Homo sapiens: one gene and its partner. The protein of the gene in region 1 purifies or fractionates together with the protein of each later gene. This does not show direct contact. Each region holds a gene or a part of one and is shown in the gene's direction. Other genes may lie near its edges.

The links.
Region 2: the proteins of TNFAIP8L1 (region 1) and SBF1 purify together in Homo sapiens (affinity purification with mass spectrometry, with the first as the bait; one large-scale study listed by BioGRID). This does not show direct contact.

Annotation. Positions count from the first base shown.
Region 1 is NC_000019.10:4,644,916-4,650,233, forward strand, and holds part of TNFAIP8L1 (tumor necrosis factor alpha-induced protein 8-like protein 1), read left to right. Parts: intron 1-5,318. UniProt on the Homo sapiens protein: Acts as a negative regulator of mTOR activity.
Region 2 is NC_000022.11:50,461,523-50,465,117, reverse strand, and holds part of SBF1 (myotubularin-related protein 5), read left to right. Parts: coding exon 1-117; intron 118-200; coding exon 201-299; intron 300-379; coding exon 380-584; intron 585-676; coding exon 677-789; intron 790-1,685; coding exon 1,686-1,835; intron 1,836-2,179; coding exon 2,180-2,248; intron 2,249-2,400; coding exon 2,401-2,559; intron 2,560-2,644; coding exon 2,645-2,913; intron 2,914-2,998; coding exon 2,999-3,171; intron 3,172-3,248; coding exon 3,249-3,322; intron 3,323-3,399; coding exon 3,400-3,595. UniProt on the Homo sapiens protein: Acts as an adapter for the phosphatase MTMR2 to regulate MTMR2 catalytic activity and subcellular location. Promotes the exchange of GDP to GTP, converting inactive GDP-bound Rab proteins into their active GTP-bound form.

The DNA of each region.
Region 1 (5,318 bases):
TTAAAGGGCTTGGTGCAGTGGGACCCTGGGAGTCGGTGGGATGAGGCCTGGGATCACTGGCCTCGGCGGGAAGAGGCCTGAGGCCCCCCCTGGGCCCCCGGACTGAGTGCAGCCGGGGCTGAGACAAGACAGATGGAGCGGCTGGCGTGCACCTGCAGAGCAGATCCATCAATTATTGACACTCTGTGAGGTGCATGAAGAATTCATGGGACAGGGGTGGGGACGGCAGGGACTTGTGACATAATTGCAGCCAGCTCACCAGAGCCACCTCCTGTGTTTTCAGGAATTTTGCCATCTGGTAGTTAAACGCAGCCATTATTTAACGTGGGAGAATATAAACTTATAGTTAAGGCTGGGCGTGGTGGCTCCCACCTGTAATCCCAGCAGTTTGGGAGGCCGAGGCGAGTAGATCACTTGAGGCCGGGAGTTAGAGACCAGCCTGGCCGACATGGCCAAACCCCGTCTCTACTAAAAATACACAAATTTGTATTTTTGTACAAATACAAATACACCAGCTGGGTGTGGTGGCATGCACCTGTAGTCCTAGCTACTTGGGAGGCTGAGGCTGAGGCAGGAGAATCGCTTGAATCCGGGAGGCAGAGGTTGCAGTGAGCTGAGATTTGGCCACTGCACTCCAGCCTGGGAGACAGAGCAAGACTCCATCTCAAAATACATACAAACATACATACATACATAAACTTATAGTTAAATAAAGTACATTTAAGCCAGGGGTGGTAGCTCACACCTGTAGTCCCAGCACTTTGGGAGGCTGAGGCAGGAGGATCCGTCTCAAAAAAAAAAAAAAAAAGGAATATAGGGAGCAGGGGAAGAGTCAAGGGAGCCAGGGAGTTGGTGCCTGGTCACCCATTTTGCAGATGGGAAAGCTGCCCCCATGCATGGGGCCTGCCAAGGGTCACAGCAGGGAGACCTCAGAGCTGTGGACGGACCTGGACAGAGGCTGTGGACAGGGCTGAGGCCTCCTGGCTGTTCCTGTAACAAGCGTGACACAGCCCTGCCCCAGGGCCTTTGCACAGGCTGTGCCCTTTGCCTGGAGCATCTTCCCGCAGACCCTGTCATTGCAGGCCCAGTTCAACTGGCCCAGCCTCTCCCTAGAGAGGCCCTCCTGGTTACCCTGAACTTCATCCCCCACCCCCGTGGCCCATATCTCTCTTCCTGAAATTAACTTGTTTGTTTCTATTTATTGGTTACCGGCACCTCCTCCTTCCAGCAGGGGAACAGTTTTTGCACCCAGGCTGGAGTGCAGTGGAACAATCTCGACTCCCTGCAACCTCCGCCTCCCAGGTTCAAGCGGTTCTCCTGCCTCAGTCTCCCGAGTAGCTGGAATTACAGGTGCTCGCCACCACGCCCGGCCGACTTTTTTTTTTTTTTTCAGTTGAGTCCGGGTCTCACTATGTTGGCCAGGCTAGTCTTGAACTCCTGGCCTCAATTGATCCTCCTCCCTCTGCCTCCCAAACTGCTGGGATTACAGTTATGAGCCACCGCACCTGGCCAATCATTGTTTTAAAGTGTACAATTTATAACCAGAAAGTTATGTGACCATCATAAATTTCTGGAATCTCTAATTCCAGAACATTCCATTACCACTCACCCCAAAAAAACCTGGTTCCCAATTTAGCAATCGCTTTCCATTTTCCCCTCTTCCAGTTTCCAGCACCCGCGAGTCCGCTTTCTGCCCTTGTGGACAGGCCTCTCCTGAACATTTTTTTTTTTTTGAGATGGAGTCTCGCTCTGTCACCCAGGCTGGAGTACAGTGACGTGATCTTGGCTCACTGCAAGCTCCGCCTCCCGGGTTCACGCCATTCTCCTGCCTCAGCCTCCCGAGTAGCCAGGATTACAGGTGCCCGCCACCGCGCCCCGCTAATTTTTTGTATTTTTAGTAGAGACGGGGTTTCACCGTGTTAGCCAGGATGGTCTCGATCTCCTGACCTTGTGATCCGCCCGCCTCGGCCTCCCAAAGTGCTGGGATTGCAGGCGTGAGCCGGTGCCCGGCCCTTCCTGAACATTTCATAGAAGTGGGATCACACACTTTGTGGCCTTGTGTGTCTGGCTTCTGTCACTGGGAATGATGTCCTCAAGGTGCATCCACGCTGGAGCTTGTGTGTGAGCCTCGTTCCTTTTATGGCTAGAGAACATTCCATTGTTTGGACCGATCTCATTTTGTTTATTCATTCACCCATTAATGGACATACGGACATTTGAGTTGCTTCCACTTGCAGGCTACCCTGGGTCACGCCGCTGTAAACTGTGACGTGCAAAACAAGTGTTTGCGTGGTGTATGCTTGTGTTTCTCTTGGGTAGATCCCCCAAAGTGGAATTGCTGGGTCCTATGGTAACTGTGTGTTTAGATGTCTGAGGAGCCGTCGGACTGGGTTTTTTTGTTTTGTTTTTTGTTTTTTGTGACGGAGTCTCGCTCTATCACCCAGGCTGGAGACCTCGGCTCACTGTCACTGCAACCTCCACCTCCCGGGTTCAAATGATCCTCCTGCCTCAGCCTCCAGAGTAGCTGGGATTACAGGTGCCTGCCACCATGCCCAGCTAATTTTTTTTGTATTTTTAGTAGAGATAAGGTTTCACCATGTTGGCCAGGCTGATCTCAACTCTTCACCTCAGGTGATCTGCCCACCTCAGCTTCCCAAAGTGCTGGGATTACAGGTGTGAGTCAGTGCACCTGGCTTTTTTTTTTTTTTTTTTTTTTTTCCTTTTGAGACAGGGTTTTGCTCTGTTGCTCAGGCTGGAGTGCAGTGGTGTGATCATAGCTCACTGCAGCCTTGACCTCGTGGGCTCAAGCGATTCTCCCCCTCTCAGCCTCCCGAGTACCTGGGACCACAGACCCGTGCCACCATGCCTGGCTAATTAAAAAAAATTTTTTTTTGTAGAGATGGGATCTCGCTATGTTGCCCAGGCTGGTCTTGAACTTCCCAGTTCAAGCAATCCTCCTGCCTTGGCCTCTTAAAGTGTTGGGATTACAGGTGTGAGCCACCTTGCCTGGCCCAGATGATTTTGTAATGAGGAGGCAGCTTGGGGTCTAGAAAGCCAGGGCCTTAGCAAGGCAGGGATGGGATCTGTTTTGATGCCTGCTGTATCCCCAGTGCCTCTGTGGTCTCTTCTGCAAAGCAGGCAACCTGGCCAGTACCAGGTGGGAATGACGAATAGGCACAGGTCGCTGGCTCAGGACACTGGGGTTTGGTTACAAGCTTCTGCCCCAGGACAGCTGGTGCTCCATAAATGCTCGTTGAGCCACTGAATGGGTGTTAACACCTGAATCCCAGAAGCTGTAGCAGGCTGTGTGTGTTTGTGACGATGGCAGGGTGCCCTGGCATTTGGAGGGCGATGCCCCTAGGCCCCAGGCAGTCCCTAGGAAGGCCCCTGCCCTGTAAGGGCTGATGCGGCCGCTACACCGCCTCCTGCAGGAAGGAAGACCCAGGTTTATTTTGGTCCTCGGCCTGTTCCCCTGGGAGAGCAGTCATCCTCCTGTCTGGCTGCCTGGATGGGAGCGTTTCTGGCAGAACAATGGGTCAGGGAGGAGGAAGGGGAAGGCCAGGCAGCTGGGCCGCCCCAGGTGTCAGCAGGTCCCGGGGCTGCCCCGGCCGTCTTAGGAGTGTGGGGGCCAGGAAGGGAGGCCACAGCTGCTTGCCCCCCATCCCTCTTCCTGTTGGCCTTGCAGGGGGCGGGGGTTGCTCTTGGGAGCCCAGGCCCTTCCTGAATCTGTAAACAGGCCTGACTCCCGTCCGGAATCAACTTCTTCAGCCTCAGGACTCACAGATGGGAAAGTCAAGGCCCAGCGAGGGGCACAGCCCTGCCTGGGGTCACGGAGCTCCCGAGATGGGCAGAAAGATGTGGGCTCCAGGGCCGATGGGGTCCAGGGGCCTCATCCCCAGATGCAGAGAAAGGCCTTTTCCTCTTCGAGTCCCCTCGGTTTATTCATCTATGAACTGGGGAGGCTGGACCCAGGGGTTCGGGAGTTTCCTCTTAGAATCTGCAAACATCCTTTTTTTTTTTTTTTTTTTTTTGAGATTGAGTTTTGCTCTTGTTGCCCAGGCTGGAGTCCAGTGGTGTGATCTCAGCTGACTGCAACCTACGCCTCCTGGGTTCGAGCGATTCTCCTGTCTCAGCCCCCAAAGTAGCTGGGACTACAGGCGCCCACCACCATGCCCAGCTAATTTTTGTATTTTTAGTAGAGACGGGGTTTCACCATGTTGCCCAGGCTGGACTCGAACTCCTGACCTCAAGTGATCCTCCCGCCTTGGCTTCCGAAAGTGCTGGGATTACAGGTGTGAGCCACCGCGCCCGGCCAGCTTTTTTTTTTTTGCACAGGGAATCTCACTGAGATAGAACTAGGTCTGCAAGTTCACAGAGCTGAGGTGGGCACGGAAGGGCGGAATTCCAGGCAGTGGTTGCAGCCTCTCGTCCAGAGGAAGCTCACAGCTTAGGGGGCATTGCGGTTTGGTCACAAGCTTCTGCCCCAGGACAAAGTTCGTTCCGATCTTCCCCATATTTCAGATGGGGAAACTGAGGCACATTGTTAAGTTGCTTGCTGCAGAGGCCAGAGCTGGGAGCAGGCCCTAAATATCAGGGTTGCCCTCTAAGACTCACGGCCAGTTGAGGGCGTTAGGTGGGGAAGGCACAGGGAGTTGGGGTTCAAGGGCGTTGAGAGCCAGTGGTTACTGTATTGCTGTGTGGTCTTGGGGAAGTGGCTCAGCCTCTCTGAGCCTTTGTGGTCTCTTCTGCAAAACAGGCAACCTGCCTAGTACATGGTGGCGATGACAAAGTGGGCACACATCGCTGACTCAGGGTCTGCCACGTGGCACTGAGTCAACAGCACCCCTCTTCTGGCCTAGGCCTGTGCAGAGCCAGGGTCTGGTGACCGAGGTCGGAGGGCAGGGGCGGCCCATCCAGCAATTCCCGTGCCTGCCCTGACCTCAGAGGGCGGCCGAGGGTTTGGAACTTCTCCCGGAGTCTGAACTCACACAAAGACCGGCTTTGTGGGGGCTCCTGGGGTAGGTGGGTGCCCACATGGCATTCCAAGGCTGGCAGCCTGGCGCTGGGGTGGGAGTGGAGGCTGAGCAGGGTCTGGGGCAGTGAGAGAGACCGGGGGCGGGTCTCAGGCCCTCCCTCCTCCGCCAGTTCTTCCACACTCCCCTCTTCATTCAGCAGATGTTTCTGGAGTCTGCAGGGACACCGTGGATAAGGAATTGGGCCCATGACCTCCCCTGTGGCCTGGGGTGAGGCAGACCAGTTGGGGTGCAGAGCTGGGGAGCAGAGGAGCAATGGGGATGCCTGGGGAACCTGCGGCTCAG
Region 2 (3,595 bases), on another chromosome or scaffold:
GGCCAGCGTGGGCTGGTAGAGGACGATTTCCTGATGAAGGTGCTGGAGGGCATGGCCTTTGCTGGCTTTGTGTCAGAGCGTGGGGTCCCATACCGCCCTACGGACCTGTTCGATGAGGTGCACCTCCACCCTGCCCTCCCAGCCCCCTGCCCTGGCTCCGCCTGACCATGGCTTACCTAACCTCCTGCTTACCCCGCTAGCTGGTGGCCCACGAGGTGGCAAGGATGCGGGCGGATGAGAACCACCCCCAGCGTGTCCTGCGTCACGTCCAGGAACTGGCAGAGCAGCTCTACAAGAACGTACGAGGGTAGCAGGACGGGAGGGCGTCGTACCGCCTTGATCCCTGGGCCCCTGCCCCACACCTGCCGTCTCCCCACAGGAGAACCCGTACCCAGCCGTGGCGATGCACAAGGTACAGAGGCCCGGTGAGAGCAGCCACCTGCGACGGGTGCCCCGACCCTTCCCCCGGCTGGATGAGGGCACCGTGCAGTGGATCGTGGACCAGGCTGCAGCCAAGATGCAGGGTGCACCCCCAGCTGTGAAGGCCGAGAGGAGGACCACCGTGCCCTCAGGGCCCCCCATGAGTGCGTAATGAGGGAGGGGAAGGCAGGCCCCGAGCGTGGCCCAGGATGGGCGTGGGGTCAGGGGTCCGAGTGTGTGTATTCTGTCCCCGCAGCTGCCATACTGGAGCGGTGCAGTGGGCTGCATGTCAACAGCGCCCGGCGGCTGGAGGTTGTGCGCAACTGCATCTCCTACGTGTTTGAGGGGAAAATGCTTGAGGCCAAGAAGGTGAGGGCTGTGCAGGCTCCAGCCGGGCCAGGGCAGCGGGTTTCAGAGGAGACCCAGGCTGCACTTCACCCTTGTGAGTGCTGACGCTGCCCCAGGGCCTCCTCTGCCTAACAGACAGCTAGAGGTGGCTGGGCTGGCCGGAGGGTAGGTGGGCTCCAGGTCTCCTCTCTTGACCTCAGTGAGGGGTGGGTCGGGCCTGCGCGGGAGACCCAGCCAGGGAGATGTACTTCCATTTTTAGAAATCAGAAGGTTTCACTATTATGTTTCGTCTGTGTCCTTCCCCTTAAATTGGGTAGGCCCATACACGACCTGTTCTTTGTACTTGATGGAAAACAGAGCTTGCTCCCTCCATACGTGACCTGTTCCTTGCATCTTATGGAAACAGAGCTTTTTGCTCCTGCTGTTTTGCTCTCTGTGGTGCTCACTTAACGCCTCTGGGGTCTTTCATCATGGCCAGTTGGAGACTCTTGTTTTTCATTGGCTGTATGGTGTCCCTTTGGGGCGGCCAGTTTTGTGATGAACGTTGTAGCAATAGAACGCAAACTCCAAGGCTTTCTGTGGCCGGGCCTGTGCCAGGCGAGTCACTGAGCCAGCCAGGCAGCTGTGAGCCTGTGAGCAAGGGGGCCCGGCCCGCAAGGCCTCCCTCCGGAGCGCACCTCCCTGCCAGCTCACAGGTGCAGCATCTGCGTCCTTGTGTCTGGCCTGGTGAACTTGTACTTGTGGAGTTGTCGGGCCCACTGGAGGTTTTAGTCTTTATTGGTCGGCAAAGCCCCAGAGTCTGGCACACCCCACCTGAAAGGCATTTGGGTCTCCTGGACACCTGCTGCCCTCCCTGCCAGGGCCCCGAGTGGGTCTTCTCTGTGCCCTCAGCCCGTGTCTCCTTTCCCCACCCCCAGCTGCTCCCAGCCGTGTTGAGGGCCCTGAAGGGGCGAGCTGCCCGCCGCTGCCTCGCCCAGGAGCTGCACCTGCATGTGCAGCAGAACCGTGCGGTCCTGGACCACCAGCAGTTTGACTTTGTCGTCCGTATGATGAACTGCTGCCTGCAGGTGAGGCCTCTTATCCTGCTAGTGACATGGCTCATGGCGCATGAGCGGGAACAGGCGGGCAGACCCTGGTCTGTGAGTGAGAGTGGAGAGACGGTGCAAGAGACTCCTGTGCCAGTGGGCAGGGGTCCTCGGTCTGCAGGGAACAGGGTGGAGAGAACCATTGTTGGGGGCAGGTGCTGGGGCCTGGGGTCTCCTGATATTGAGCCTCTGAGGCAGCCTTGGGGAGCTGGAGCCAAGGGTGTCAGGTGCTGGTCTGTGGTGGTTATGGGGTGGTGGGGGCATGGTGGGAGGTGAGTGCTGCCTGGGAGGGGAGAGGTCCTGACGGTCTCTCGCTCTACCTGCAGGACTGCACTTCTCTGGACGAGCATGGCATTGCGGCGGCTCTGCTGCCTCTGGTCACAGCCTTCTGCCGGGTGAGTGCTGGCATGGCTGAGGTCTCCTTCCCAGCCCCCCCTTCCTGGTGGCTGAGGTCTCCTTCCCAGCCCCCCTTCCTGGTGGCCGAGGTCTCCTTCCCAGCCGCCCTTCCTGGCTGCATCCAGCTGACCTTCTCCCCTGGCTCCTGCAGAAGCTGAGCCCGGGGGTGACGCAGTTTGCATACAGCTGTGTGCAGGAGCACGTGGTGTGGAGCACGCCACAGTTCTGGGAGGCCATGTTCTATGGGGATGTGCAGACTCACATCCGGGCCCTCTACCTGGAGCCCACGGAGGACCTGGCCCCCGCCCAGGTGCGCAGGGACTCCCTGGGCTGGGGGCTGGGGGCTAGGGGCTGGGGCAGCGTGGCCCCGGCTCATGCGTGTGGTGCCGTGGCAGGAGGTTGGGGAGGCACCTTCCCAGGAGGACGAGCGCTCTGCCCTAGACGTGGCTTCTGAGCAGCGGCGCTTGTGGCCAACTCTGAGTCGTGAGAAGCAGCAGGAGCTGGTGCAGAAGGAGGAGAGCACGGTGTTCAGCCAGGCCATCCACTATGCCAACCGCATGAGCTACCTCCTCCTGCCCCTGGACAGCAGCAAGAGCCGCCTACTTCGGGAGCGTGCCGGGCTGGGCGACCTGGAGAGCGCCAGCAACAGCCTGGTCACCAACAGGTGAGGCAGGGACTGGGGGTTGGGCCCAGTGGAGGCGGGGCCGTGGTGGGCAGGGCCCATGCCCACAGTTTCTTCTCTGGCCCAGCATGGCTGGCAGTGTGGCCGAGAGCTATGACACGGAGAGCGGCTTCGAGGATGCAGAGACCTGCGACGTAGCTGGGGCTGTGGTCCGCTTCATCAACCGCTTTGTGGACAAGGTCTGCACGGAGAGTGGGGTCACCAGCGACCACCTCAAGGGGCTGCATGTCATGGTGCCAGGTACGGGGGTTTGGGCTGGTGATTCCCCCTTGGATGGGTGGGGCTGGGCACAAAGTGTGAGAACTGTCTTCCCCCAGACATTGTCCAGATGCACATCGAGACCCTGGAGGCCGTGCAGCGGGAGAGCCGGAGGCTGCCGCCCATCCAGAAGGTTTGCGGGGGCCGTTGGGGCTGCGGGGGCCCAAGGCCCGGGCTGCATCCTGAGCTCCTGCTCTTGTTTTCGAGCAGCCCAAGCTGCTGCGGCCGCGCCTGCTGCCGGGTGAGGAGTGTGTGCTGGACGGCCTGCGCGTCTACCTGCTGCCGGATGGGCGTGAGGAGGGCGCGGGGGGCAGTGCTGGGGGACCAGCATTGCTCCCAGCTGAGGGCGCCGTCTTCCTCACCACGTACCGGGTCATCTTCACGGGGATGCCCACGGACCCCCTGG